Regions from separate parts of the Homo sapiens genome. Here all the other regions are linked to region 1. Evidence: fine-mapped expression QTL. A gene starts in region 1. Each other region holds a variant in brackets. All regions are shown on one strand. Distances are from middle to middle.

Region 1 (4,067 bases):
GAGCTCTCAATGAGCTGATCTCTCTGCTATTTGCTTTTTCAAGGAACCCTTCCCTGACCACCCATCCAGTTATAATACATCACCCCTTGGCACCGTGGGCTTTTCCTTCACTGCACCCTCTTCTATTAGTTGTTTTTCCTCCTTGTGGGACTGTAAGCCCCAGGAGGGCAGGCACCATGGCTGTCTGACCCACTGCTCTGTCACCATTGCCAATCCTGATAGGTACTGATAGGGTGAAGATGGAGTGTCTGGTATCGTCATATCCCAGTCCCAGGACAGCTGTGTGGCCACCTACCATTTGGGGACTGTTTTCTTTTTAAAATTTAAAAAAAAATTTAAAGTCTACACCCCATGATTCTGTATGGGGACTGTTTTCTTTTAGCCCCAAAGTCCAACAGGAGCAAATCCTTTAGTGGCTCTTAAAGCTAGAGTTCAGCTGTTTGGAGGAAAGGGTGACAGAGCTGACCCACAGGGTAGATGCGACATCTTCCCCTGGAGCACTAAGGCCAAACAGGAGCCCCCTGGACGTTTGGGAGCAGGCTTTACAAGCCCTGCCTAAAGCTAAGATGTCATTAGAGTGATGCGTTGCATCCCTGCCTTGTTCTCTAAGGAAGCTTTGGTGTTTTCAAGACAGGCCCTTTCCCCCCTGGCCCATTGTCCTTACTTGTTTTCATTCTGTATAGTGCTGTTATTACGGGTCAGGCCTCCTTGCACTCATGTGAAATCGTTGAGAACCTACTCAATTAGAAAGTTCTGAACAGGGCCTTAGAGGAGTGGGGGCTAGAAAGATGAACCTGGGGCCAGGCACGGGGGCTCATGCCTGTAATCTTAACACTTTAGGAGGCAGGGGCTGGAAGATCACTTGAACCTGGGAGCTGGAGGTTATGGTAAGCCATGATCACACCGCTGTATTCCAGCCTGGATGACAAAGCAAAACCCAGTCTCTAAAACATAAAAGAAAGAAAGGAGGGAAGGAAGAAAGAAAGGAATGAAAGCAAGCCGAATCTGCTCCGAGGGAACCAGTATAGCAAGACAGAATGTAATCAAGTATCTTAAGAGTGGCCTAGGCTTGGCTGGGTGCTGTGGCTCACGCCTGTAATCTCAGCACTTTGGGAGGCCGAGGCAGGCGAATCACTTGAGGTCGGGAGTTTGAGACCAGCCTGACCAACATGGAGAAACCCTGTCTCTACTAAAAATACAAAATTAGCCGGGCGTGGTGGCGCATGCCTGTAATTCCAGCTACTCGGGAGGCTGGGGCAGGTGAATCGCTCGAACCTGGGAGGCGGAGGTTGCGGTGAGCCGAGATGGCGCCATTGCACTCCAGCCTGGGCAACAAAAGCGAAACTCCGTCTCAAAAACAACAACAACAACAACAACAAAAAGTGGCCTAGGCTTTTTGGGGAACAAATTGGTTGTGGCTGGCCCTCAGGGAGCAAGCTTTGCGGCATAGCAGCGTAGGCTAAAAGGTCCTCCCCGGAGACAAAATCTGCAGGGACCACGGGGTGGGAAGCATCAGAAGGCTGCCCACTCTGACTGCAAATACAACAAGCTGGAGTGTTCCTAGAAGAGGCAATTTCTTCCGCGTGTGTGTTGGGGACAGCCTGTGTGTGTGAACATTTTCTGCCCTTGCCGCGCAGAGCTGGGTGGACCAGAAACCACCCGCAGAGGAAGAGACTTATTACCTCTTGGCCATGTCTGTCTCCAGAAGAACCGACCTTTCCTGCTCTATGTGCAACAAGACACACCTTCCGAGGAAGGAGGCGAACAGGATTTCCATCATTACTACTGCCCTATTAAAACACACACATACACACAACTGTGTAATTAGCCTCTGCAGGAAAGGCGCACAAACAGGATGCGTTCGAGCTGACCCCGGGATGAGCCATCCCTGTAAATATTAGGAAAAAGAACCTCCCCGCCGTGCCCCCGCCTCCGGCCAGGGCCTCTTGGGGATGGCCCTGCAGGGTCACCAGCCCACCGGGGAGGTTGGGAGAGAGGGGGCGGGCGACTCCTCGCCGCGCGGGTTCCTGGCTGGAGCGCCCTCCTCTGCGTCCTCCCAACCTTCCATCGCTCCCCAGGTCAGTCTACCACGCCTCAGGTGTTTGCTCGGGCTGGGCCACGAACCCTTTCCTTTTTGGCCTGCGCCCGGGGTGGCCCCTAACCCGCAGCGCACGGCCAGACCCAGCGCTACAAGGAGGGCGCGCAGGGCGGCGCAAGCGGGCACTGGCCTCCCGGGGGCTTGCGCGGGGATCCACCCACCGCAGGGCCGGGCCGCGGACCGCGGGCCACGCCCCTGGGGTCCGGAAGGCGCGGGAGCGGACGCGGGGGTTCTGTGAACTTGGAACCTGGCGGTGCGAGGTTCTCGCCGGGGATGCGGCGGCGGCAGCTGCTTCCTGGTTTGAAGCTCGCCGAGTGGGGGAGAGCGTGAGCCTTCGGAGGCGGGGGCAGGAGGAGAAGCAAGAGGAGGCGGGGGAAGAGACGCTTGGGGCTGGGGCTCACCGGACGGGTAGGTCCGGCTCTCCAGGGAGAGGAGCTGCCCGGCCCTGGAGAAGGGGCGAGTCCTGCGCGAGTCCCCGGGAGGCGCCGCGCGCTTGGAAGGGACGGTCGGGCTTCCCCGGCCCGCTGAGGGCTCGGCGGCGGGCTCCCCTCCTTTCCACCTCGGGAGGGAGGGAAGGAGGGGAGGGAAAAGTCCCACGGAGGAGGCAGAATGGCCAGTCGAGGGGCGCTTAGGCGCTGCCTTTCCCCAGGGCTGCCTCGACTCCTGCACCTGTCCCGAGGGCTGGCCTGAGACGGGACTCCCGGTTCTCCCGCTGCGAAGCAGCGCGGCCCCCCGGGGCCGGGGCAGCGGCGCCGGCATGTCGTCTGGCACCATGAAGTTCAATGGCTATTTGAGGGTCCGCATCGGTGAGGCAGTGGGGCTGCAGCCCACCCGCTGGTCCCTGCGCCACTCGCTCTTCAAGAAGGGCCACCAGCTGCTGGACCCCTATCTGACGGTGAGCGTGGACCAGGTGCGCGTGGGCCAGACCAGCACCAAGCAGAAGACCAACAAACCCACGTACAACGAGGAGTTTTGCGCTAACGTCACCGACGGCGGCCACCTCGAGTTGGCCGTCTTCCACGAGACGCCCCTGGGCTACGACCACTTCGTGGCCAACTGCACCCTGCAGTTCCAGGAGCTGCTGCGCACGACCGGCGCCTCGGACACCTTCGAGGGTTGGGTGAGTAGCGGTGACCCCTTCCCTTTGTGTCCACCCAACCCCCGTTCCCCTTATGTTTTTCAAAACTCACCCGGGTCCCGCTTTCCCATCGCTTTGTGGCTGAGGGAATTCCCTCCAGACTTTGGTCTTCGTCCACGTGGCCGCGGCACTGGTGACGCGACCGCGGTGGGTGTGTGCAGGCGCAGGTGTGTCTCCAGGAAGCCGGCCTGGACACGATCCCCTTTCAGGACAGCGGCTTGGCCTAACGGGAAGTCGGGCAGGGGTCCAGGGCGGTCACCCTTTCCGCCCAGTCTTTGGGTAAGGAGCTCCAACTTTCAGCACGAGAGTGATAGGTAGGAAAGGCAGGGAAGGAGTGATACAAAAGGGACTTGATTTGGGTAAAGTGCTTCAAGCGCTACTTAGGAGAAAGCCGTACATTCTCGCGAGTATTATTCATAATGTTTATGGATACATGTTGGTTCAGCCGCTCAGACGTGCACACGTGTTTCGGCTTGCACATCCCAGAGGTACATGAGCTACACTGGCAGGGAAATGAGCGCCTGGGTCTGCACGTTGGCAGTTTTATTATTTAGCATTTTTCCAAGGAGATGAGATTTACATATACTTGCAAGTAACTTAGTCAGTCCGAGGTGGGAGTCCTGCAGTGTGGGTTTCTGCTGCTATGGGTCTGAGAAGAGGCTGTAAGGACTCCTCAGGAGGTTGTTAACTGTCTTCCCTCCCCCCATCACCAGCCTGTGTTCCTGGGTATTGACGTGTAGCTACCCGCAGCTCTCCCCTTGCCTCTGCTTTTCACATAGTTCCCAGGAGGCATAATTTCTGCTGTAAATCAATTAAAACTTCTAGAGCGCT
Region 2 (4,067 bases), 82 kb after region 1:
GATTTTATTCATCCTTTTTTCCCCACTGTGTTGACATTTGCCCCAATGGTGCAAAAGAGAAATGGTGGGTAAAAGCATGGCACCAAACTATAAAGTCATCATTGTATTCTTGATGGCCACGTAGTTGCAGGAGGAAGAAATCTAGTTTCACTTAAGAATGTCTTTGATGGAACAGTAAACATTATTCATGTTATTAAAGGTCAATCCTTGACTATATACCTTTGTAACATTCTGTGTGACAAAATGGGAAATATGCTAAAAGCATTCCTGCTTCATACTGAAATACTGTTGTGTCTCAAGGAAAAGCACTTGTGTGATTGAGTTGTTAGCTGAGCTAGCCACTTTTTGCATGGAACACCATTTTTACTTTGAAAGAATGACAGACAAACCATACTGTGGAACTGGCAGATTTTTCAGACATTGTCTAAAAAACGAATGAACTGCGCCTGTTACTTCAGGGAAAACAACTGTAAGTATTTGGTGCCAGTGATAAAATTAGAGCCTTCAAAACATAATTCGAATTTTGGAAAGTTTATATCCACCATTGTGAGCTTGACAACTTCCCAGTACTTATTCTTTTCTCATGAGTTTGTTGTTATTAACGATTGTAATTTTTAAAAATTGTGTTATGAGATATGTCAACATTTAGAAGATGACTTCCAATGATTCAGTGAACACGTATTTTCACAATGGCCAGTACGAGATGTTATAAAATCATTTATGGGTCAAGGATCTCTTGAAAGCGTAAGGTAGACTCATGTATATTAATTTAAAGTATGAAAAGTTCATTGATACAGTTTTATATTGCAACCAACTTTTGAGAAACTACGCCTTGTTTACTTTTGTGTGGTATTAAAGAAGAATATCTGCAATTATCTGAAAAATCTATTAAAATTATATTTTTAAATTACTCTGTGTGAGGCTGGACTGTATTCATGTACTTCAACTAGAACAACATTACAGTGGCTTGAATACAGAAGCAGATATGAGAATCTAGCTGTCAGGCTGGGCGCAGTGGCTCACGCCTGTAATCCCAGCACTTTGGGAGGCCGAGGCGGGCAGATCACGAGGTCAGGAGATCAAGACCATCCTGGCCAACATGGTGAAACCCCGTCTCTACTAAAAATACAAAAAAAAATTAGCTGGGTGTGGTGGTGCGTGCCTGTAATCCCAGCTACTCGGGAGGCTGAGGCAGGAGAATCACTTGAACCAGGGAGTCAGAGGTTGCAGTGAGCCAATATTGTGCCACTGCACTCCAGCCTGGTGACAGAGCGAAACTCTGTCTCAAAAAAAAAGAAAAAAAGAAAAAAGAAAGAATCTAGCTGTCTTTTTTTTTAATTAATTAATTAATTTATTTATTTTATTTTTATTTATTATTATTAGACTTTAAGTTTTAGGGTACATGTGCACAATGTGCAGGTTAGTTACATATATATACATGTGCCATGCTGGTGCGCTGCACCCACTAACTCATCCTCTAGCATTAGGTATATCTCCCAATGCTATCCCTCCCGCCTCCCCACTAGCTGTCTTCTTTTAAGTCAGACATTAAAGAGATTTGCAAATTGTAAAATAATGCCACTCTCTCTATCTTTGGGGGGATGTTTGAAAATGTAGTTATATTTTATTAAAATGTGTATACTAACATGTAATGGAATTGTTATTGTTTTTAATAAATGATAAATATTTTTAAATGTCTCCATTTAAATTTCTAATTTGACAAATATCAGTAGAATCCATTCAAAGGGGTACTTGGACCAAAAAATTTTACAATTTCTAGGTTATTTTTTTCTTACATTCTTTCAAAAGCCCAGTGCTTTAAATTTTAATGACCACAGGGAGAAGGAACTGACACATATTTGTGTATGTTATAATCAGAAAAAAATATGTACAGTTAGGTGATACAGGTGACAGAATTGTCATTTTTTTGAAACTTTCTTTTTGTTTCTGATTATTTCTGCTGTGCA[G/A]TGTACTTTTTCAGCCAGTTTTTGTTATAAGCCTGTTCTCATAAAAATAAGGTCAGGAAGTGACACCAAAACAACTCAGAAGCCTGTGGTGGTTTCTAACTTTAGAGCTGCCTGTTACAGATAGCTTCATGCTAAACCTTTGCTTGATTTGAGCAGAACAAGGCAGTCACGATACTTCTGAACAAGTGATCAGTGCTGTGAGCACTAAAAGCTGAACCTCAAAAACAGCTCAAGATCCATGGACAGAGCCTCAGGAGACACATTTCTATGGCACTCGCTTACTGACTAGCATTCTCCTTTTCTAATCAAGGTTCTTGAAAAACAGAGGCTGACTCGTTTGTTAATTTTTTTCAAGCTTTATTGTTTTTTCCTTGAAATTATAGTGATGTGGTATTCTCTCTATGGAACTGAGGTTTGGGTAAAACAAGAATGATTTAATTTTTTGATAGAAAAGTTAATTGCTCCAGTGTCTGTTTTCATTATACTTCCATTTTATTTCCAGCAACCCCTTATCTCTCTGCTCTCTTTGTTTCAAATGAACAAGACAGTAGAGTTTGTTTTCCAGGCCACTTGTGTTGGTAACCCTTTTCCTAAGCTTTCCCTAATAACACCCTGTGTCAGTGGACAGGTAGTAGGTAGGAAGACCTGCTTCTTCCCTTCTACCGTGAAACTCGTCTTCAGCATCATTCTTTCATCCTGATGGCTGAGAGTTGTGTTCTGGTCTCAAGTCAGCAGTGGATAACCCACTGCATGAAGTTGATGGGGAGTGTGGGCATGGACAACAGTGGCCTGAGGTTGCAGATACATTCTTTGTATATGTAAGAGACCACCTTATATTTTGTAAGTGGAAACTTAGTTCTCATAGGATTTTGGAGAAAATCAGTTGCCTCCTCTAGGAATTTTCATTTGTTTACAAAATGTCCTGGGTCAAGCAATACTTTTATGTTATCCCCACTTAGGTTTAGTGGATCCATCCATCCATCCATCCACCCACCCACCCACCCACAGAGTATTTATGTAGAAAACTATGTAATGGATGTATATATTCATGCATGTGTGTATGCATGTACTTAGTAATGACACTGGTTTGTTCTCACAGAACTCAAAATTTGGTGTGTATGTGGAGACATAAACAATTAGAAAGGTTAACATAATATGTACCTCCACAGGTGGTACATGCTATGGAGAAAATAAAACAGAGTAAGAGGACAGAGATGGGTCCTATGTGTATGCTGTTTTGTTCAAATCAGATGGTCAGGGAAGGCCCCTCTGATGAGGTATCATTTGAGCCAGAGGTCTGAAGAAAGGGAGGGAGTGGACCTTGAGTCTGTCTATTGGGATGGGGAACAGGAAGTGCAAATACTGTAAGGGTTGCAGCAGGGAGAGGAGTGTAGCTGGGCCTTGAGGTCAGGGGAGGTGCCCACATGGTTGTTGGCACAACTTTGGTGCCCTGCTAATGTCACTTTCCTCTTCAAGAATACCCTTGTCACTTAAGTGATGTTCACTTATGCTTGCTGCTGGCTTACCATTTGGCTCACTGAGCACGTCTTTTCCCCTTTGGTTAGGGGCTTGAAGAGCACAGCATCACATCTATTTATGACTTGATGTATTTTGCTAATGCGGAAACCATTCCAAATTCATGATAACAACTTTCTCCAGTTCTGTGAATTCCCTCATGGTTTCTTTTTGTTCTAAGCCAAATTAGGAGCCAATCCCCAGCTTAATAAGCATTAAAAGTTCAAATTGACTGTCTGGAAATCTATAACAAGTCCATGCACTCCTAAATATAATTAGCTGTAATTCAGTTCTAGTTATGGATTATTAAGAAATTACTCTTATTTGAGCACCTCACTCATCAAAAATAAAGTCAGAAAATTTAGGCGCAGCTGGAATCTTCTGCTCTTTTTTTTTTTTTTGAGACGGAGTCTCACTCTTGTCGCCCAGGCTGGAGTGCAGTGGCGCAATCTCAGCTCACTGCAACCTCCACCTCCCGGGTTCAAGCGATTCTGCTGCCTCAGCCTCCTGAGTAGCTGGGATTACAGGCGCGCAGCACCACGCCCAGCTAATTTTTGTATTTTTAGTAGAGATGGGGCTTCACCA
Region 3 (4,067 bases), 150 kb after region 1:
CAGCATCCCAAAATACCAGCAGCACCTCTCCAGTTATAACAACCAAACATATCGCCAGACATTGGTTCCCAGGGGGGAAGAATCTCCCCTGGCTCCCTTACATGACTGTCAGGTGATTGTCTTTGGTATGAAAAGTCAAATGGGTTAGACGATCACTTTTCTTTTTATAGAAGCCAAAGCCAAATGTGTCAGACCTTCTTTATGAAAATATAAGCGTTATTTTTTTTCTGAGTTTGTAGAAAGGCAAAGTTCCTGTTGGGGGCTCATTACAGCTGTTGGTGCCTGCACTGACAGTGGCATTGTTAGGGATGGAGCCCCTGAGCTCGGGGGAGACAGCGGAAGCGTGCAGCGTCTGTTTAATGTGAGTGAGGGCTGGCATGCTGCTGGCAGCTCTCAACAGTGAAGCCTGCTGCTCGATAAGGCATTATTATCAGAGCCTGGGGGCATCCAGGGAGCAAAAGATTAGCTGACTGAGCATATATCTAAAATGGGTTATTTTTAAAAAGCAAGCAGTACAAATACTGCAGCTTGTCTTGTTTTAGCATTTAATAATTACACTTTCACTTTACCAGCAAGGCATTGAGTCAGTGGCATTTTATGAAAAGCATCCTCCCAAACCTGAACTTTGTGAGTCAGATTCCCATCCTGTGTGTGGTACATGTGGTTGGATTGTACAAACAGATAATCAGAGTTTTGCAAAATGTTTCCCAACCAGCATGGGAAAACGTGCTGATAGCAATATGATTGGGCTTTGAGGGAGAGCCACTTGCTGGCTTTTTTTCTTTTGTTTCCCATACATGGAAATGCCATTTCAACTTGAAATGTGGATACCTTACCAGAGGATTGCTTGAGCCCGGGAGGTTGAGGCTGCATTAGCGAACTGGGACTGCACCACTGCATTCCAGCCTGGATGACAAAGTGAGACTCCTGTCTCAATTTTTTAAAAACCCACACACAAAAAAAACAACAAAACAAAAAGTAGAACCTTAAATGCTATCTTAAGGCTGAATAGTCTCTAAATATTGAAAGTAGACCCTAGCCAAAAGAGACATTACCTGTTTCTGTAATATAATGAATGGTATTAGTGTACTTATCTTGCATTTTAAATTCAATTCTGTAAATGTTTATGGAGCATGCATTATGTGCCAGGGATGAAGACACAAGAACAAAATGTGGACCTGCCTTTTAATTGCTTACAGTCAAAGGTCATGATAACACCATGTGATGGAGAGAAGAAAGTCATGATTGATCCTCGTGGAGGTTGGAAGGACTTCCCAGAGGAGGGGCTGTGTGAGCTGTGTTTTGAAGATGAATAGGGATCTTATAGTCACAAGAGGAGGGCATAGACTCCCAGACAGAGGTAACAGCAGTGCAAAGGCACAGAGGCTTAAAATTGCAGGATGTGCCCAGGAAACCCCAAATGACTAGATGAGGCAGATTTGTAAGAAGGGAAATGGTGGTGGTTGGCGGCGGGGGTAGGGGGGTGGTGATGAAGAAGCAAAGTCATAATGGGTCTGATGTCCTTTGCTGAGGAGCTTAGACTAAACTGTTTAGGTAAAAGGAGCCAGCAAAATCTTTAAGTGAGGGAGTAACATAAGATTTGCATGTTAGAAGGCTCTCTCTGGCTGCTATGTACAGAGGGAGGCTAATGGCAGCAGATCTGGTGAGGATGCTGGGCCCGTGATCTGGGAACTTGCCTGCCCCAAGGCAGCAATCATGGGAGTGGAGTCAAGGAAACACTAAAGAAGTAGACATGATAGGACTTTTTAAGTGGGAATGGCCAGGGCTCTGGCCATTTGGAAGCCTAAAGAGAATGGAATAGCATGAGTTCGGTTTGGGGGAAATTCAGTGGTAAGATGCTTGTTTGTCAGAAACACACTTGAGATGGGAGATCAGTTTGGTGTCATCCATGTCCTCTTGGTAAGTGGAAACTATAATATAAAATCTTTCAGGCCAGGTGCAGTGGCTCACACCTGTAATCCCAGCACTTTGGGAGGCCAAGGTGAGTGGATCACCTGAGGTCAGGAGTTCGAGACCAGCCTGGCCAACATGGCAAAACCCTGTCTCTACTAAAAATACAAAAATTAGCCGGGCATGGTGGCACGCACCTGTAATCCCAGCTACTCAGGAGGTTGAGGCAGGGAGAATCGCTTGCACCCGGGAGGCAAAGGTTGCAGTGAACCAAGATCACGCCATTGCACTCCAGCCTGGGCAACAGAGCGAGACTCTGTCTTAAAAAAAAAAAAAATCAAAAATCTTTTAGTAGATGTTTATAGAGAGAGAAGAGAGGAGACTTGAAGAAGGAATTCTAAGTAAGGGTTAAGGTTGAGTGGAAAAAAGAAGAAGAATCAGAAGGAAGTGGTTTCATAGTAGGATAAATCAAGTGCTGAGATGAAGTCAGTTCACTAACAGACTCAGAGTTCTATTGGATACGGCATGAGGTTCTTGGTGTCACCATCTTAG[G/T]ATCTGCTCATTTTTGGGGTTTTAAGAACCTGTCTGAACTCCACTTAGCCAACTGAAGCTTGCCTTCAAAGTTAACACAATGTGCTTTCTCCCATATAAACCTTTTAAGCTGTTTCTGATGACTGTTCCCCTTCCTGTTAGAGCTCCACCTCTTTTAATTTAGCCTCCATACCTTTAGAGTAAGGTCTGCAACTTTCTTCCTTAATTGACAGTGGAGATCAATATGTAACCCAGATTGCAAAAATGGTTTGGGAACACTGCATGTTCTCACTCATAGGTGGGAGTTGAACACATGGACACAGGGTGGGAAACATCACACACTGGGGCCTGGCAGGGGATGGGGGGCTGGGGGAGGGATAGCATTAGGAGAAATACCTAATGTAAATGACGAGTTGATGGGTACAGCAAACCAACATGGCACATATATACCTATGTAACAAACCTGCACGTTGTGCACATGTACCCTAGAACTTAAAGTATAATTTTAAAAAAATTTTTTAATAGTTTGGGAAGAAATTGTGGGCATGTCATTTGCTTGAACAGATTTTGTTCCCCAGCCAGAGGACCAGAGAAGAGTTTGTCATGGCTACAGTGGAGGAATCAAACTCAGAATAGCATGTGAAAGGCACATTCCACACAGAAACTTCGGCCCGTGCATCAGCACTGCAGACAGGGGGAGAGGAAATGAATTCTCAGCCAGTAGATTCCCAGGCATCACCTTGAGGCAGATATGGCATATTCTTGGCCATAGTCTCTACTTCTCTAACTGGGCAAAGTGTCTAATCAACTATAACCCAAAATATCTTCCCACATGGCATAAGTGTCGAATTCATACATAGATCAGAGGGAGAAATGAAATTGTGGTTGTCTTAAAAGTTTACACAGTTTAGGGATCTCCATCATGAAAAATGATCTAAATAAATGAAATGGTATTTTTACTCTTTATCCTACAAGCCCTATACAAACTAAGTCCATAAATATCCTATTTGATGCTTAAACCAAAAGCTTTATAAAGAGAATTTCACTATGTGAAATAATGACTTGAAGAAATCCTATTGTGGATGCTTTTGTTAAGTTGCTAAACCTTTTTTAAAAAGTAGATAATCATCCAAGATATCTTCTTTGTGACTCTTAAGTTTTAGTGTATTTCAAATGTGGATAGTTTTTGACTAGGAGGTTTGTTCAAACGTTCTTCTCGACCACTAGGGGGTGCTCTAAAGGTTAGTGATGTCTAAATGATTGACCAATCAATTAAAACACCGTGCCCAGTTAGCAATCATCTCCACTGAGAGATGCCTGCTTTACCAGGCTAAAAAAATGATCTTTATCATGGCATAGAGACTATAAAAGCTGTGTCCTTTTATTTTCATTAACCTAATTAGAAGTCAAGCTAATTGTAGGACTTCATAGAACTGGCATCGGGAATAGCATGCAACTGTTAAAAAAATCATGGTCTTGATGACTAATTATATCAGGAAATAATATGCAATATAAATGAAAAGAGAAGTGTATGTTTTTTACTTTTTCCTTTCTGTTTTTAAAACATGCTATAAAATGTTAAGTATAATTAGGACACAAAGGAAAAATTAAATCTAGTTAACATT
Region 4 (4,067 bases), 200 kb after region 1:
GTTATTTTGAGGATAAAATAAGAATATAGATAAAGCACTTAGCATTTGATGAACATTCAGTATATGTTAACCACTGAAGACACTGTTATTCTTGTTATTCACAAAAGCTTTTTTCCAGGTTTTCTAGACAGACCCACAGACTCACCACCCCCAAATGAGCAACAGACAAATGGCAGTATGCTGACAATCATAAATTGACTGTGTATTTTATGATAATGGGTATCAAAGTTGTACTCTATTAAAGAATTATTATCTTTGAGATTCAGATATTAAAATGTGTATAGATGAAATAGCTCATATCCTGGATTTGTTTCAAAATAATCTGATAAAAGATGGATCAGGGAGGGAGGGAGTCGATGTAGCGAGGGAGCATGTTTGGACGTGCATTGGCAGGTGCCGAGGCTGTGTGATCAGTATGGGAGTTGTGTCATTCTCCCTACTTTTGTCTGTTTTGAAATTTCCCATAATAAAAGTTGAAAAATATGTTAAAAATAGTTCATATAAATAGCCTCCTAGATTCATTCTTGTTCAAGGAGCCAGCTCTCAACTCGCTTTCCTTTATTTCTTTTGGAAGAGTAACTGACTCTAGTGATCTAAGCAGTAAGACTCATGTCAATCTGTTTTATTACTCTCAGGATAGCTTATGGTGGAAACAAAATAAATCCAATTTCTGAATCTCCTTTGTCTTCAATCACTTGGGAATTCTCTCTGAAACTACTGTGGGCATTTTAAGTAACCCTGATTACCCAGCAAGAACAATGTAGCTTTCAGACAAGCACAGAGGATAGAATAACTCTTTCTACCCTTCTATGCTTGCATGACAAAAGCTGTAGCTATTAAATACCGGTGCTCAATGAGCTAATGAATGGCAAGCCGGTAACTGTGGTTTTGGCATTTTAGTATTTGAGCCTCTGCCCTGTATGAACTTGTAATCTTCATTGTGTAGCCTTGTTAAGTTCAGCTGCTGAGTTACATGTTGGCATAGGAAGCTGAGGTACTCCTAAGCCAAAAACTGACCTCTGCATATTTCAAACTAAAGTCAGGAGGCTTAGGGTGACTTCTTTTGCTTTAAAAAAAATAAAGGCATGATTTCCCTTTAGAGTGGAAGCTGACCATGACTGTAAATGGCTCTATAATCTTTGGCTTTGTTTGAGTCACCCTCTCCATGTTCTGCTCTTCCGTTTGGATGCAAGCCAACATGAGGATAAGTGTTCTGCTTGGTCCTCGTTGTTTAATAATTGACCCTTCAAAACCACTTTCTTTCTCCAGCTTCATCAAAGAGAAGAATTTAAATTTTGATTTCAGGTTTCTTCTTTTCCCTCTTGAGTCTATCTTTAAGGGGTAAAACATGTGGCTTTTTATAAGTTTAAGTACTTTGGAGCAAAGTTTATGGAGTGTCCTTCCATCCCCTAAAAATAAGATAGGCTCTGAGTTGGCCAGGGCAGTCCCATTGGGGTCCATCTGAAATGCTTCTGTTTATCCCTTTGGTCAGCACCTCCTGCCAGGACCATGCTGGAGCTGCTAAGAAGGAAGACAGGTGCACAGACAGAGCCTTC[T/C]GGAATACAGTGCGGGGTATGCTATCATAGAAGTATAAACTGGGCACCCTAGGAGCAGAGTTGATATTGCTATGACTGTCTGGGGACATCAGGACAGACTTCATAGAGCAGGTATGAGATACTTGGGCTGAGGGCAGCACTGGTAGCCTGGAATTACATTATGCTCTTAATTGAACCCTCTTGGGATCCCAGTTTGAGCGATCTGTCTTATTAAATAGCACTTGGTATGAGAACAGCCATGGCGTTTCCTTTACAGCTCATACAGTTCTGAGAATGCCTAAAATTAGATTGAAATCAGGATTAAGGTGTCTAACCTGCCTTTGTGGCCTCGGGCATCCTGTGACCAGGATGAGTCACATCCCTGTCTTGCCCACTTGCGTCTTCTGAGAGCTGCGTCCCAAGACTTCCCCATGCAGAGCTGATTGTAATAGTTGACTGACAAAACTGATGGCCCAGCACTTTCTCTCCCTGCGCGATTCCTGCTGCCCATGACAGCAGCTGAGTAATAAGCAGTCAGACCTCTTACCTGGGACATTAGTCACAAGCTCTTAAGCAACTGCGGGTCAACGCTTGAGACCGTTTTGGATTTCTGTTAGCACTTGTTTCTGTTGCCCAAGAAGATCCTTTCCAAGACTTCAGCAGGCATACTGGCTTCGGGAAAATTCAGAAACTCAGTGACCTTGTTTGGAAATGTGAGTGATAGTGTTCTGGGCTCAGGTCCACACAGGCCTGGCTTGTCAGGCTAGGACACAGTGTCGATAAAGCTGGGCTCATGGGCTTTGTCCCCCCGGCCGTGCTCTCTCCTGGGGCTGCAGACTAGTGTGTCTAACCTCAGCCAGGCGCCTCTCTACTGTGTGCCCGCAGTCCCAGAGGAGCCAGGCACCCAGGCCTTATAGTGCCTCCCAAGTCAGAAAACACTTGTGGAAGAACTGAGAGTGGTGGCCTCCTTCACTGGGCAGGACCACGATCATCCTCACCCCTGCTCCCGTCCTGCGCTGCTACGATTGCAACCTTTTGTAGGTTAAACTGGCTGTGCTCATATTGTATTTATGTGGTGGGGCCAGGGGAGGAAGCAGCTTCCACAAATCAGCCCACTGAAAACAGTCACTTATATGGGACATGGGATTCTGCGTGGAGAAGGGCTGATTTGGAGCCAGGACTGGGTTTGGGTTAGAGACACAGAAAGCTTGCTTCGCTGAAGTGGGTGCACAGGTACTCAGCATGCCTTTGCCTTATGCCCCTGACACCCGGGGAGGCTGCTACTAAGAGCAGAGAAGTCTGTTCTATGTTCCATTGATCTGTGCCATGAAAGCTTTGCTGCTTTAACCACACTTATTGGGGATTCCTGGAATACCAGACTTGGTTTCCATTCCTGGGCATTTTCTAGTGGCCATTTTCTGTAAGACCTGTATGGCCAGGCTGTATCAACTCACAGGACAGCGTGTGGAAACCAGTCATGCCAGTTCTGTCATCACCTACCTCCTCCAAGCCAGCAACGTGATCCAGGCTGGACAGAGACCAACCTTTTGCCTTGGGCCATGCAGGCCAACAGACCTTGATTCTCACACTGAGGCAAGAAAATAGAACCTCGAGTGCCCTGACACAACCCACAGTGAATATGGCACTCCAGAAAGAGCAGTCAGCTGCAGCCACTGAGGAGACGCCACAGCGAGGGGGGCTCCAGGCGGCCCAAGGCCATGGCAGCCTCCCACAATGGCAGTTAACCACAAAGCTCCAGGCCACCTAGCATCCCCCCCGTGACCTGCAGCCTCCTTGTCACTGATCAGCCTATGTGGGTTGCCTCTGAGCATATTGTTCCTTTAAAAACCAAAGTGTAAATGTCTCACCCAAAAGGCCAAGCTGTTGCTCTGTCCAGTCTAGACTGTGCCTGTGAGGCTAGCAATGCCACCCTCCCTCTGTAACAGTGCCCTGGGGTATGGGTGGCAACAGGACAACCAGGTGCTTGTGCTGGGAAGCGGGTTTTTTTAAGAGAGCACTGCCTTTTATTTACAGACAGCTTTATCAGTACATGGCCATGTTCCTGCCGACCTTGAGGACTCTTTACCAAACAATCCTGCTGCTGAATATTCACTTCCTTCCACATGAATTTGCTCTTAGGGATTGGAGGAGGGGTGGAAATGCTTTCAACCAGTCTCCATAATCTAGGCTTCTTGTGCACCTGGGGTACCCACAAACAAACCCTGTTCTCACTCTGGTTTTCCTTTTCCTGATTAACATCCCCACAAACCTACTGGATTTAAGACAAACCCAGAAGTCATCATTTCTGCTGCTTCTCTCTATCCGTCTATCTCTAAGTGATTATCAAGCCTTATTACTGATTTTGCTTTCACCGAAGCCCTGCTTCCTTTCCCCTGACTAACTCCTTATTTTCCATTCCATTCATCACTGTCCTGGTTCAGGTCTTAACATCTCTTCCCTGGACGGTTTCAGCCTCCCCCAACTGATCTTTTCTTGTCCAGCCAGGAATCTGTTACTCCCTTAATGAGGGAG
Region 5 (4,067 bases), 130 kb after region 1:
CAAGTATATATAGTGTATAAAAGACCCATTTAATCCTGAAGTTAAAAGGTTCTGGGAAATAGATGGGGGTGTTAGGGGATTGGCAAGGAGAGAAATATGGCCTGAATATGAAAGATGAAGTGAAAATCTTAATTTTTATTTCTCAAAATGGCAAATGATCTAATGTGTTTCCCACATTTCTGTCTTGTCCTGTTCATTAGAAAATGTGTTTAGTCTGGTTCGTAAGACCTGAGTAATTAATCAGGGCTGAGTACAGTAAAATAATATACCTAGCTCAGGTGTCATAGTGACACTTTGCATTTGATGGGCTCCTATTACAGTTTTTACAAAGGACATTGGTATGACATTTTAGCTCTTGTCCCTTTATTTCCTTTTTTACAGATTGCAGAACAGAGGTTCGGGATCAACATCCCACACAAGTTCAGCATCCACAACTACAAAGTGCCAACATTCTGCGATCACTGTGGCTCACTGCTCTGGGGAATAATGCGACAAGGACTTCAGTGTAAAAGTGAGATGCTGAGGTGCTGGGTACCCACCTCTTCATGGGAACACTATGCCCTAAGCTTTCAGAATTCTGTGGACTCAGAATCTGTCCTAGAACTGATGGTTTTAGATATGTTGTAAATCAACATCTTAGTCATTTTAAACTTACATGTTTCTTGTCAGGCATGTAAAGAGAACTTCATCTGATGCCAACATTTTCTAATCATAGGACATTAAGTCAAATGGTATATTCAGTGATCTAGCTCGCTAGCTGACAAATACAGCCTAGACACTGTATTTTAATAGGTGTTTGGAAGAGAAAAAGATGGGATCTTAGTCAGAAATGGAAGATGGTTGAGTCAGGTGAGACACTAAAAAGAAAAAAATAAATAAAAATTTCAAAGAAATGGAAGTTAGGAGGAGGTGAGGAGGTGAGATGGCCAAATGAGAAGGTTGGGTTAAGAGTAAGAAATGGCAGAATAGATCTGATGATCTCACCAGAAATCAGCAGGAATGGAGTTGTCACAGCATAAAAAGAGCTGCCCTGGGTCTTGTGAAAGAGATTGGAGACAGGGGTAGAATGAAGGAAGATAAAGCCTTGATTGTAAGCTTGCATCTCACCAGCTGTGCCCAGTGGAGTGAGAGTTTGGAGCTTTGGCCCTAGCAAAGGCTCTGAGTGGGTGAGAGCTGATCCCTGTCCTGTTAGGAGTTAGGGAGCTGTTGGCCTTGTGCCATCTTGTATGGAAATGTAATGATCTGACTGCCGTGGGGTGCACCTGAAGCCTTTCTTATCAGACACACCCCAAGTCGCCAGTTGAGGAGAACAATGGTGAGGTAGAATTGGCATGAGTATAGCCAGACAACTTCCATTGACTGCTTGGACTTACAGAGCCTGCTTCTGTCAACAAAAAGGGGCCAGTCACTTGTCTTTAAGAAGGGCACATTCTTCTATCTCTGTAGAACACTAATAATTTTTTTCTCATAAAACCAAAACAGTAGCCAGCTCATGGATAACTTGTAGGGCGTTGGTCCAGGTGCAGCTTGATCTTAGCGTGACGGTCTCACCTGGGTATGGGTTCCCAGTGGGAAATCCCTTTCTGCCTTGCATTGTTGCTGATGCGCAGAGCCATGCATGGGGCTCATCTGCATTGTCCTCTTCCCTAGTGGCCTGAGGGTAGCACACCTGCAGCAATCCGGCTCTTGTGATTTTTGCCTTTATGGTCACTTGGTGGTTTTGAAAGGCTTCTGTAGGCTCGTGTGTCTTACACCTGTCTTCCTGAGAGGGGTGGGTTTCCCATGAAGCTTAAGTCTCAGGGCTCCTCTCTCTCAAGGGCACCTTCCAAAGCCCTCTACTTGATTTGGTGTTCTTTTTCTTAAAGAAGGCCTCCTAAATTATGTAAATTCAGGCCCCACAAAACCTGGATCTGTGTGTGCTTCCAAGATGGACTGACTCCATAAAACAGGAATGTGTTGCTTGTCGCTTCAGTTTCACCTCCCATCAGCAGGGCCCATGTCAAAAAACTGTCTCAGAATTTATTCCAGCTGATAACGCCTCAGATCCTTCATTGTCCCCAGGCAGCTTCCGGTGCCTCAGGAGCTTAGCTTTCTTTGCTCGCCTCTTCAACTGCCATTTGTACTCTGACCTTCAGAAAGTTTTAAAAGTTGCCTTTCCCCACTATGAAGCAGTTAGAACCACAGGCTGCAAATGCTGAGAACCACAGGCTCACAGGATGCCCATCTCTGTGCTGTGAGGCCTGCCCAACCACAACAATACTCAGAAAGAAAGCTGCAGATAGAGGTTTTTCTTGTAGAAACACCATTTCCATCCT[G/A]TTTGAACAGTGATCTACATGTGGCATTTAAACTGCTACCTTTTATTTCACTGTTGAGAGACAGAAAAAAATACAGTTGACATGATTCTTTGTTATTTAATTGCCTGTGAATTGCCGCTACGATAAAGGTTTTAATCTTAGATCATACTAAGGCAGCAATGCCTGTTACATGTGATTTAGATGAATGGGTTTCATCAAATCATGGTGGAAAAAATGTATTTGAAATATATTATTCTTTAGTATGCTTGCCTTTCTGCTTCTGCAGAAAACAGAAATAGATAAAATGTCAGGAACTATTACTAGTGTGAGCTTAATTTTATGAGAAAATGATACTGTTCAGCCGGTATAATTCCTCTGTTATAATCTTTTAGGCTATTAAAGTTCTCTGTTGCAGCACATGTTGAATTGGTTCCTTTCTGAACATGGATTCTGTTTTCCTTTTCCCTCTAGTATGTAAAATGAATGTGCATATTCGATGTCAAGCGAACGTGGCCCCTAACTGTGGGGTAAATGCGGTGGAACTTGCCAAGACCCTGGCAGGGATGGGTCTCCAACCCGGAAATATTTCTCCAACCTCGGTGAGACTTTGCTTTTTTTCCATGTCTCGTAATTTAGAAGTTGCTCAGATGTGATGAGCCCAAATGAGAGCATGTGGCCTCATCAAAGTTCCTAATCTTAGCAAATACAATAAACAGACTTATTGCCTTTCTTTCTTTCTTTCTCTTTCTTTCTTTCTTTTTTCTTTTCTTTCTTTCTCTTTCTTTCTTTCTTCCTTTCTTTCTTTCTCTCTTTCTCCCTTTTTTTTCTCTCTCTCTCCTCTCCTTTCCTCTCCTTTCCTTTTTCCTTCCTTCCTCCCTTCCCCTTCCCCTTCCCCTTCCCTGTCTTCATTCCTTTTTGAGATGGGGTCTTCCTCTGTCACCCAGGCTGGAGTGCAGTGGCACAATTATGGTTCTCTGCAGACTCGACTGCCTAGGCTCAAGTGATCCTCCTACCTCAGTCTCCCAAGTAGGTGGGACTGCAGGTGTGCACCACTATGTCAGGGTAATTTTTTATTTTTTTTTTTGTAGAGATGGAGTCTCACTTTGTTGCGCAGGCTGGTCTCAAACTCCTGGGCTCAAGCGATCCTCTCGCTTTGGCCTCCCAAAGTGTTGGGATTGCACAGGTGTGAGCCACTGTGTCTGGCTGAAATAGCATTTTTAATAGCAATTTGTTTCACGGATAAGATTGTATATACAGTTATATGACAAGAAATAATGAGCATGAGCAACAAGTAATAAACAGAAAGCAAAAGAAGGACTTTTTTCCTTTCTTTCCTTTTTTTTTTCTTTTTTCTTTTTTCTATTTGTTTTTTGAGACAGAGTCTCGCTTTGTCACCCAGCCTGGAGTGCAGTGATATTCGCTCACTGCAACCTCCACCTCCCAGGTTCAAGCAATTCTCCTGCCTCAGCCTCCCGAGCAGCTGGAATTACAGGTGCCCACTACCGCGCCTGGCTGATTTTTGTATTTTTAGTAAGACGGAGTTTCTCCATGTTGGCCAGGCTGGTCTCAAACTTCTGATCTCAAGTGATCTGCCCACCTTGGCTTCCCAAAGTGCTGGAATTACAGGCATGAGCTGCCACGCCCAGCCTTTCTTTTCTGTTTTAAAATCAGCTTCCTGTCACTGTGGTCTGGTGAAAGCCTAAAACCCAGGATCCTGGGTTATGCTTTTGTCTGGGGACCAGGCAGGACAGGTGACCAGTAACTATGGGCGTC
Region 6 (4,067 bases), 70 kb after region 1:
TGAGGCAGGAAAATCACTTGAACCCAGGTGGTCGAGGCTACAGTGAGTCATGATTGCAGCATTGAAGTCCAGCCTGGGTGACAGAGGGAGACTCTGTCTTAAAAAAAAAAAAAATCTTTGAGATCATATGTGGAGGCTGTGTTAGAAACGCTAGGCCAATGCCAGGCACAGTGACTCACACTTGTAATCCCAGTGACTTGAGAGGCTGAGGTGGGAGGATTGCTTGAGCCTAAGAGTTTGAGACTGGGCAACATAGTGAGACCTTGTCTCTACATACATACATACATACCTAGATAAGCAGGCAAGCTGGTTATGGTGGCACATGCCTATAGTCCTAGCTACTTGGGAGGCTGAGGCAGGAGAATCGCTTGAGGCTGGGAGTTCAAGGCTGCAGTGAGCTATGATTGTGCCACTGCACTCCAGCCTGGGAGACAGTGAGACCCTGTCTCAAAAAAAAAAAAAAAGAGAAAAAATGCTAAATAATGATGCCATAGACTTTTCAGATTGGAAGAGTGAGGCTCAGTGTGGTAAAGGACCTTGCCCAGGGTCCAGAACCAGCTGTGACAGAATCAGACTAGAGTTCTTGGCCTGGTCTAGTAGGGGGGCTCTTTCCACTGTACCATGTGACTATTTGCAGCTTATTTTAAATTTAATATTTGACCAAAAATGGTCATTCGTATCTCTAGTGAAACTTCTCTATATGCCAGTCTTCCTCTTCAGATGAAAGGTCAAAGGCAGAAATGGAGCCACAGCCAAAGAAAGAGAAAAATAAAATAAAAATGGAGCCATGGGCAGAATCTGAAAAGATTTATTTAAGGACAATTGTAAATTCATGTATTTGAGTCCACAAGAGCCTCACAATGCAAGGCTTAGAGGTGTTCATGGATAGTGAAGTTAGCATCCGGTAGGAAGAGGGGAGTCCGCCCACCTAAGCTAGTGGTGATCAGAACAGAGCCAGAGGTGCTGTTCATCCTGGGCGCCATGCTGTATGGGGTCTTTCGGAAACTGGACTATATGCAGAGGACGACACCATATGAAAAGACTTCAAGCTGCATTGCTTGCAGAATGCATGTCTTGATATTTCAGCTGATAGGTAACTTCAAGGTATGTTGATACTCCCGTGACTAATTAAGAGTAGCAGTCCGACACAGTGTCTCACGCCTGTAATCCCAGCACTTTGGGAGGCTGAGGCGGGAGGATCATTTGAAGTCAGGAGTTCGAGACCAGCCTGGCCAACATGGTGAAACCCCATCTCTACTAAAAAATACAAAAACAGATCAGATGTGGTGGCACACGCCTGTAATCCCAGCTACTCAGGAGACTGAGGCAGAATTGCTTGAACCTAGGAGATGGAGGTTGCAGTGAGCTGAGATCATGCCACTGCACTCCAGCCTGGGCAACAAAGTGAAACTACCTCTCTCTCTCAAAAAAAAAAGAGTAGTGAATGCAAGGCTCCTAAACTTCCTTCCCTAGTGCTTCCTTAAGATTGACCAGACTTTGGTGGAAATATGTAGCAGAGACTCTTTATACTTTTTACTCCATAAAACTAAAGATTTGCAGTTGACCAAGCCACATGTGTTCATTACCTTGTATGTTGCCGTTATTTCTCTATTTCATATTCTTGCCATGTGGTTTAGTAAAATGCTGCTCTTATAAGCCATATGCATAAGATATGGAGGTCTCAAAAACAATTACCAAGTATGTGGATGTGCCTGTCTATATTATGACAAGCCAAAAATGGGAGAGAATAAAATTCAAGAGGAAGGAAACTGATAAAATGTGGTTT[C/T]TTTTCAGTCTTTACAGTTTTTTGAGCTTTCACTTGTTTCCCTGCCACTCTACTATTTAATGAAAGACTTAGATTTATTTGATTTGTGGCTGTGATTTACACATTAGGCCTCTCTGTGATGAATTGTTTAAGGCCCACAAAAATATTTTAAAACTAACATATAATATACATTTTTTTTTCTCTTTGTAGGTGGATCTCGAGCCAGAGGGGAAAGTATTTGTGGTAATAACCCTTACCGGGAGTTTCACTGAAGGTAAGAATGAGTTTTGGGTAGTTTCCAGAATACATGTAATCTTGGTTTACACTCAGTAGGAATTTCTATCATGGACATTATAAAAAAGAGCATGTTGTAAGAGATGCTTAAAAAATCACTTTCATAAGTTGGGCTGGCTAGTATTTTGTTGCCCAGTGGTCTATTGGTTCAGGTTGCCAAATTAAATATATTTGCTAAATCTGGCAATCTCACGTTTCATTTAACACACTCAATGAGTTTTTGTTTTTAGCCAGTGTCATCGTAGCTGAATGGTTTTTGCGTCTTTTTGGTTCATGACTGTGGAACTCTACGTCTTTGGTTTTGTGCCATCTTTTAGTTTGCCTGTGAATGTCTATGAAAGAAATTTAGGGATCCAGTTATCTTCTTTATAATCTCTATCTCATTTGTGACCTGTAAGGGATTCTGTTCTTCATCTGTGGCTACCGTACTCCCTACTCCCCCATCCAATATTTTTTTTACTTGAGGTAAAATTTATATGGGGGTGAAATGATAGATCAGAAGTGAACAATTTGAATTTTGACAAATGCATACAACTGCATAACCAGCACCCCAATCCAAGATACAGGACATTTCCATTATTGTGAACATTTCCCTGTACCCTTTTTCAATCCCCTGCTCCCAGAGGCAATAAGTAAAGTGCTTTATTTCACCACAGGTTAGTTTTACCTACCCTAGAAGTTCATATACATGGAATTATACAGTATATTCTCTTTTATGTCTGGTTTCTTTCACTCAGCATAGTTTTTAGAAGATTCATATCATTGTGTATATCAGTATTTTTTTCATTTTATTTCTGAGTAGTAGTATCCCATTATATAAATGTAGCATCCATTTGTTTACCCATTCTCCTCTTGGTGGACTTTTGGGGTTTTTCCTATTGTTGTCTATTATGAATAATGCTTTTATTAACCTTCTTACACATAAATTTTTCTGGACATAACACTTTCATTTATCTTGGATAATTATATAGGAGTGGAATTGCTGGGTAATAAAGTAGGTGTGTGTGTAACTTCAGAAGAAACTTCCAGATGGTTTCCAAAGTGGTTTTATTATACTCCCACCAGCAATGCATGAGAGTTCCAATTACTTCATATCCTCATTAACACTTTCTATGGCCATTGCTTTTCATCGTAGACATTCTAGTGGGTATGAAATTATATCCTGTGGGTAAATTTGCATTTCCCTGATGGTGAGTACTTTCTCACATGCTTATTGGTCATTTGTTTGTTTATTTGATAATTTCCAGTTCCAGTCTTTTGTCCTGTTTTCTAAAATTGGATTTGTCTTTCTATTATTGATTTAGAGGAGTTCTTTGTTTTCTGGATATGAGTCCTTTGTGAGAAATAGGTATTGTGATTACTTTTTCCCAGTCTGTGGCTTGCCTTTTCATTTTCTTAATGGTGTCTTTGAGCAAAAGTTTTAAATTTCTATGAAGTTCAATTTGTTAATCTCATCTTTTGTAGTTCATATGTTTTATGTCTTCAGAGATCTCTCTGTCATAGGATCACTAAGATATTCTCCTGTTTCTTTTTTTGTTTTTTTTTTTTAAGAAGCAAATAGTTTTAGGTTTTATGTTTAGGTCTGTATGCCTTCTTAAATTGATATTTGTGTGTGATGTTACAGAGGAGTTGAAACATTTTTTTTCAATACACGAATGCAGTTGTTCTAGCACCATTTATTAAAAGTCTCCCCTGGCCCCTTGAATCACCCTGGAACCTTTGTTGAAAATCAATTGACCATATAATGTGGGTCTGTTTCTGGATTATCTGTTCTGTCCTGTTGATCTGTTTGTCCATCTGATCTCTCTTTCTTTTCTCTACATTATGCCAGTATTACACTGTCTCATTACTGTTGCTTTATAGTGAGTCTTATGGTTACATAGTATGAGCCCTCCAACTCCGTTCTTTTTTGTATGTTTAAGGTTATTTTAGCTATTCTCAGTATTTTGCAATTTGATATCAGTTTTAGAGTCAGCTTATATATTTCCAGACAAAATCCTGCTGTATT
Region 7 (4,067 bases), 23 kb after region 1:
TCCCATTGGTAGGAACTTTCTTCATGAGTTCAGAGGCTTTGTCTTGGTTCCCGTTGTATTGCCAGTGCATGGCCCCTGGTAGGTGCTGAGTAAATGTTGGTTGAATTGGATGCCTTGAGGTGAGGCATGAGAAAGGGTTCTCCTCCTCCCCCTGAAGGTGGTGAAGATAGTTGTGACAGTTGAGACTTGCATGGGGCTGACCTTGTGAGGTCCTAAGCCTGGTGACCAGCCTCTGCAGTGTAACTGGGCTGTCTCATGGGAAGGGCAGAGCCTTTCCTACGTGGCCAACTCTGTGTTCTGAACAGGAGTGCCAAACTCATTTGGAGGGGAAGGGAGCGCCCTTTTAAAGCCTCAACTACTAATTAAATTCAAGCAGAAGATGGTGAAGGTGGAGCTAACTCATTTATTAGCATATAATATGATCAACCTAACTCATATAAATGTAGATTATCTTGGTTTGTCTTTTCCTGGCTGCAGAAAAGGCTTGGAGAGGTGCCTTGGATTGTGAGTTAGTCAGTGAGCAGCTGCTTAAAGATTTGAAAAATCCTAGAATATGTCATCTCTGTAGGCTTTATCCTTTAATTAATTATGGATTTTTATCTGCATATATGTGAAGCTAATGATTGACTTGGTTCGGACACTGAATTGTCGGCTTAAACCTGCCATTCCACTGGGCTTCATCACTATGTTCTATGGGTGTGAAGCCTTTGTTTTTTCAGAGACCCATTTCCACCAGCGGGTTTGCACTGTAAGTGTTTCCACAGGAACTCTGCCCTTTGCCAGTGTCACTGTTGTGGCTATGCAGCAGAACCCACAGGGCGGAGGTGTTTCAGCCCTCACTGAAAATGCAACAGATCTTAACATCTCTTGCTGCAAATTTTCCAGTGTGTTCTGGTCTACCTTGGTATCTTAAAACCAGGCTCACTGACTACCACATGAGAAATGACAGTGGGGTGTCTTAAATGATCTGTTGAAGACCAGCAGCCAAAAAGATTGCCCTTAGTGTTTCTCTCTACCGGCTAACATTAGACAATGCCATGTAGAAGCTGCTGTTAGGGTTTGAGAACTGTGTCGCCTCATTCTCAAGATAGCCAAGGAAGTGTCATCTCTGGAGAAGGCAGTTCTGTCTCTTTCAGTTTCTCCATGGATCCGATATTGTTCTGAAAGAGGTGGTTTTACCAATTCGTCTCACACAGACTTCTTGCCTTTACTTTTATCTGACTGCTGACAGGGTGGGCTGGAATATAATCGCTACTTAACTGGACTTGACTTTCAAGGCCTGATTGGCGTTTCCAGTATAGCAGTTGCCTGAGTCATCTAGTTTTGGAACTGATAAATCAAAGGACTGGCTTGGAGGCTAGTGTCCTGTCTGGAGAATGGGCTTAATGTAACTTCAGTTAAGAAATTAATGAATCTGAAATAGTTATAACCCAAGGAAGAGATTTTCCTAAAGAATGTCCCTTTAGAGAAATAATGACCAGTTCCCTCAAAAAAAAAAAAAAAAAAAAAAAAGGAAAAACAGACACTAGACTGGATAGAAAAGACTTACATGTTGAGGCTGATGATTTCTCTTATGGAACTATAAAAGGACTGGACTCTAAGGAAATGAGGGTCTTCAACTTCATTGGTGATATTTCCAGTTGTTCTGGAGCTGTGATAGAACCAGGACTAGAGAATGCAGGGCACGATGATAGATTTTTTTTTATGTAGCACTTTTAAACATAAAAAATATATATCTAATGTGCCAATGCAAGACCTGGCCTTTTTGTAATCAAGTAATATTTTGAGTAATAATTGATTGCACAACATCCTGTGACACACTGTGAAAGAGTAAAATTGGCTTAAAAATTTTAAGTACAAAGACATTTCAGAAGAGTTTTGTCCATAACTTTGTTAGACTGAAATGAGGAATTACATTTGGCACCAGGAAATGGATCTGGATTATTTAGAACAAATGTTTTCCAGGTTTGAATCTTCTATGTGGAAGTACAGCCTGACTTCTTTGCCTTTTCCCTGGTCCGGGATCCTGACAGTCAGTTCTTCAGCTCTGTGCCTCCAGAATTTCATGTTTATGCTGCACAAGGCCTGTATTTTATAATGGTGGCTCTTTTGGACGATGACTTCCTCGATGGTGAAACTTCCAGTAATCTCCCTCATCATACTGAAATGATATCAGTATATCATCAGAACACCATGGAGCTTGTCATTTGAGGGACACAGCTTGCTTGTGTGCTTGGGAAAGAAGAGGTTTAGCATGGTTTCAGGTCAGTGATGAGTCCAATGATCTCTGCAAGTTCCCTTAGCTCTGAGAATTCTGATGTCATATGCACTTCTGCCGCCAGAGTTGCTGCTTACTGGATGCGTAAGAAGAAAGGAAAATAAATGTAAAATGCCTGGC[A/G]CCACTGAGGAAGTAGGGTGAGGAGTTAAGTTAGACAGTGACTGGCATTTCCCAGCCACACTAGTACAGAAGTGTCCTGTGGTACGAACGGAGGCAGGCTGGGGGGTTCCATTGTGTGCCAGGTGTTTCCATGAAAATAAACTGTTGAGTGCCAGGTATGGCAGCTGCAAACAGGGATTTGGGGGGCAAAATTTAATCTTTTTTTGTGATTTGTTGAATGAAGTGCCTAATGTGTCTCAGTAACTTACTTGAGAGGAAAAGAGCCACAAGCAAGGTAGTGGAGAGTGCTGGATGGTTGCCTTGTGACCAGACCTGTTCTTTTAAGGCCTCTGGAGCCAGCTGTGGGACGATCAATCCAGCAGCTGCAGGTACGCCTCGGGTGACACTTGGGTCTGTAGTCAGCGGGGTTGCCTGTGACTGAGAGTGGCAGAGTGGTCCCTTGCACTGATGAATCCTGACCCTGCTGATCTTTGCTTGGGTGATGGCTGTTTGTGTGCTATTTCTAGAAGTTCCTCCCGCCTGCCTATGTGACCTGTTTTCACCAGATCCAGATTGCTAGCCCCTTAAAGCTTGAAGAACCTTAAAGGTCATCTGGAACAAAAGATTTATTTATTTTTAGCCCGGTGGCCACCCTGAACCCCCCAGTTGATTGATTGAGGCTAGTCTTGAGCGTGCCCTGCTTCACATGCTAGTTTTCCAGTTTCTACTTTGGGAGAATGACCTTATCATTAGGCTGGCCAAGAGGGCTTCTTTCTGTTCCTGTCACAGTACTAGGCTGTATACTCATTCACCCTCAGTTCCCTTTTCTGGTATATTTCTTAACAAATTATTTCCCTCTTTCCACTATTTTTAGGGGTAACAAGTCTAAGATATTTACATATAAATGGCTCTCCCTTCTCAAACCCTTTTCTAGCAAGCACTTTCTGGGAGGACAGTGTCTTACCAGGATCTTCTGTCACTGTGGTCCCTTTGAGGGTAGAAAGAATAGATTGTTGTGAAGTCTTTTGTCAGCCTCTTCATGGTTATAAACGTACTTAGTTTTCCAGACTATGTAGGTTTTAGACTTCAAGTGAAAAGAGTATACGTTGTTATGCAGCAATAGAAAACAAAACAACTACCACAAAATTGTATTTTTTCTCCATCCAGAGGCTTTAACTTTCAACATTTGTATATGGAGGCAAGGCTGACAGCCACAGCAGTAATTTCATGATGGCTGAAATAGCTGTGAACTGTGCATTAACTTGTTCCTTCTCTCTTAAATTCTGCTGCAGTGTTGGAGCAGGGAAGGCGAGCAGAGGAGTGATGAATAGAGTAGCAAGTGGGATAATATACAATAATAGGAGATACACAATAAGGATTAATTAGGTGTCAGGCTAAGTATTTCATGTGCATTAACTAATTTAATCCTCAGAATACCTTCAAGATATTCAGATTCTCTTATTATCCTCCTCTTTGGGAGGCAACTGAGGCTCAGAGAGGTTAAGATACTTGCCCCAAATAAGTGGTGAAGGCTGGGCACGGTGGCCCAGCACTTTGGGAGGCCAAGGCAGGAGGATTGCTTGAGCCCAGGAGTTTGAGACCAGCCTGGACAACATAGCAAGACCCTGTCTCTCTTTTTTTTTTTTTAAAGTTGTGGAGCTAGAGTTTGAGCACCTGCATGGAACCACTA

Direction of the effects. Positions count from the first base shown, and alleles are read on the strand shown. Sizes are in standard deviations (SD) of each study's normalised expression. Not every link is listed here.
As copies of A replace G in region 7, the expression in monocytes after R848 of the gene that starts at base 2,333 in region 1 goes up (moderate effect, 0.59 SD a copy in Quach 2016).

The links.
Region 2: its variant is fine-mapped to the expression of PRKCH in whole blood (TOPMed, PIP above 0.99).
Region 3: its variant is fine-mapped to the expression of PRKCH in whole blood (TOPMed, PIP above 0.99).
Region 4: its variant is fine-mapped to the expression of PRKCH in whole blood (INTERVAL, PIP 0.94).
Region 5: its variant is fine-mapped to the expression of PRKCH in whole blood (INTERVAL, PIP above 0.99).
Region 6: its variant is fine-mapped to the expression of PRKCH in whole blood (TOPMed, PIP above 0.99).
Region 7: its variant is fine-mapped to the expression of PRKCH in monocytes after R848 (Quach 2016, PIP 0.95).

Annotation. Positions count from the first base shown.
Region 1 is chr14:61,319,247-61,323,313 of GRCh38, forward strand. PRKCH (protein kinase C eta) reads left to right here and starts at 2,333. Exons shown (of 14, transcript NM_006255.5): 1 at 2,333-3,218. The coding sequence starts at 2,856. It overlaps PRKCH-AS1 (PRKCH antisense RNA 1), which reads right to left and starts at 3,572. Exons shown (of 5, transcript NR_186042.1): 1 at 3,289-3,572. RefSeq lists silencers at 2,126-2,395, 2,546-2,715 and enhancers at 2,677-3,221, 3,222-3,765.
Region 2 is chr14:61,401,512-61,405,578 of GRCh38, forward strand. The region is part of intron 2 of PRKCH (protein kinase C eta); the gene reads left to right. Among named protein-coding and RNA genes, the nearest start is that of PRKCH-AS1, 81 kb to the left of the region's middle. The variant G/A (reference allele first, on the strand shown) is at 1,968.
Region 3 is chr14:61,471,760-61,475,826 of GRCh38, forward strand. All of the region lies in intron 9 of PRKCH (protein kinase C eta), which reads left to right. Among named protein-coding and RNA genes, the nearest start is that of PRKCH-AS2, 72 kb to the right of the region's middle. The variant G/T (reference allele first, on the strand shown) is at 2,464.
Region 4 is chr14:61,523,560-61,527,626 of GRCh38, forward strand. All of the region lies in intron 10 of PRKCH (protein kinase C eta), which reads left to right. Among named protein-coding and RNA genes, the nearest start is that of PRKCH-AS2, 20 kb to the right of the region's middle. RefSeq lists an enhancer at 1,809-1,958. The variant T/C (reference allele first, on the strand shown) is at 1,557.
Region 5 is chr14:61,450,461-61,454,527 of GRCh38, forward strand. PRKCH (protein kinase C eta) reads left to right here. Exons shown (of 14, transcript NM_006255.5): 6 at 382-511; 7 at 2,766-2,893. Among named protein-coding and RNA genes, the nearest start is that of PRKCH-AS2, 93 kb to the right of the region's middle. The variant G/A (reference allele first, on the strand shown) is at 2,316.
Region 6 is chr14:61,389,250-61,393,316 of GRCh38, forward strand. It overlaps PRKCH (protein kinase C eta), which reads left to right. Exons shown (of 14, transcript NM_006255.5): 2 at 1,976-2,039. Among named protein-coding and RNA genes, the nearest start is that of PRKCH-AS1, 68 kb to the left of the region's middle. The variant C/T (reference allele first, on the strand shown) is at 1,787.
Region 7 is chr14:61,341,864-61,345,930 of GRCh38, forward strand. The region is part of intron 1 of PRKCH (protein kinase C eta); the gene reads left to right. Among named protein-coding and RNA genes, the nearest start is that of PRKCH-AS1, 21 kb to the left of the region's middle. RefSeq lists an enhancer at 167-226 and a silencer at 786-915. The variant A/G (reference allele first, on the strand shown) is at 2,399.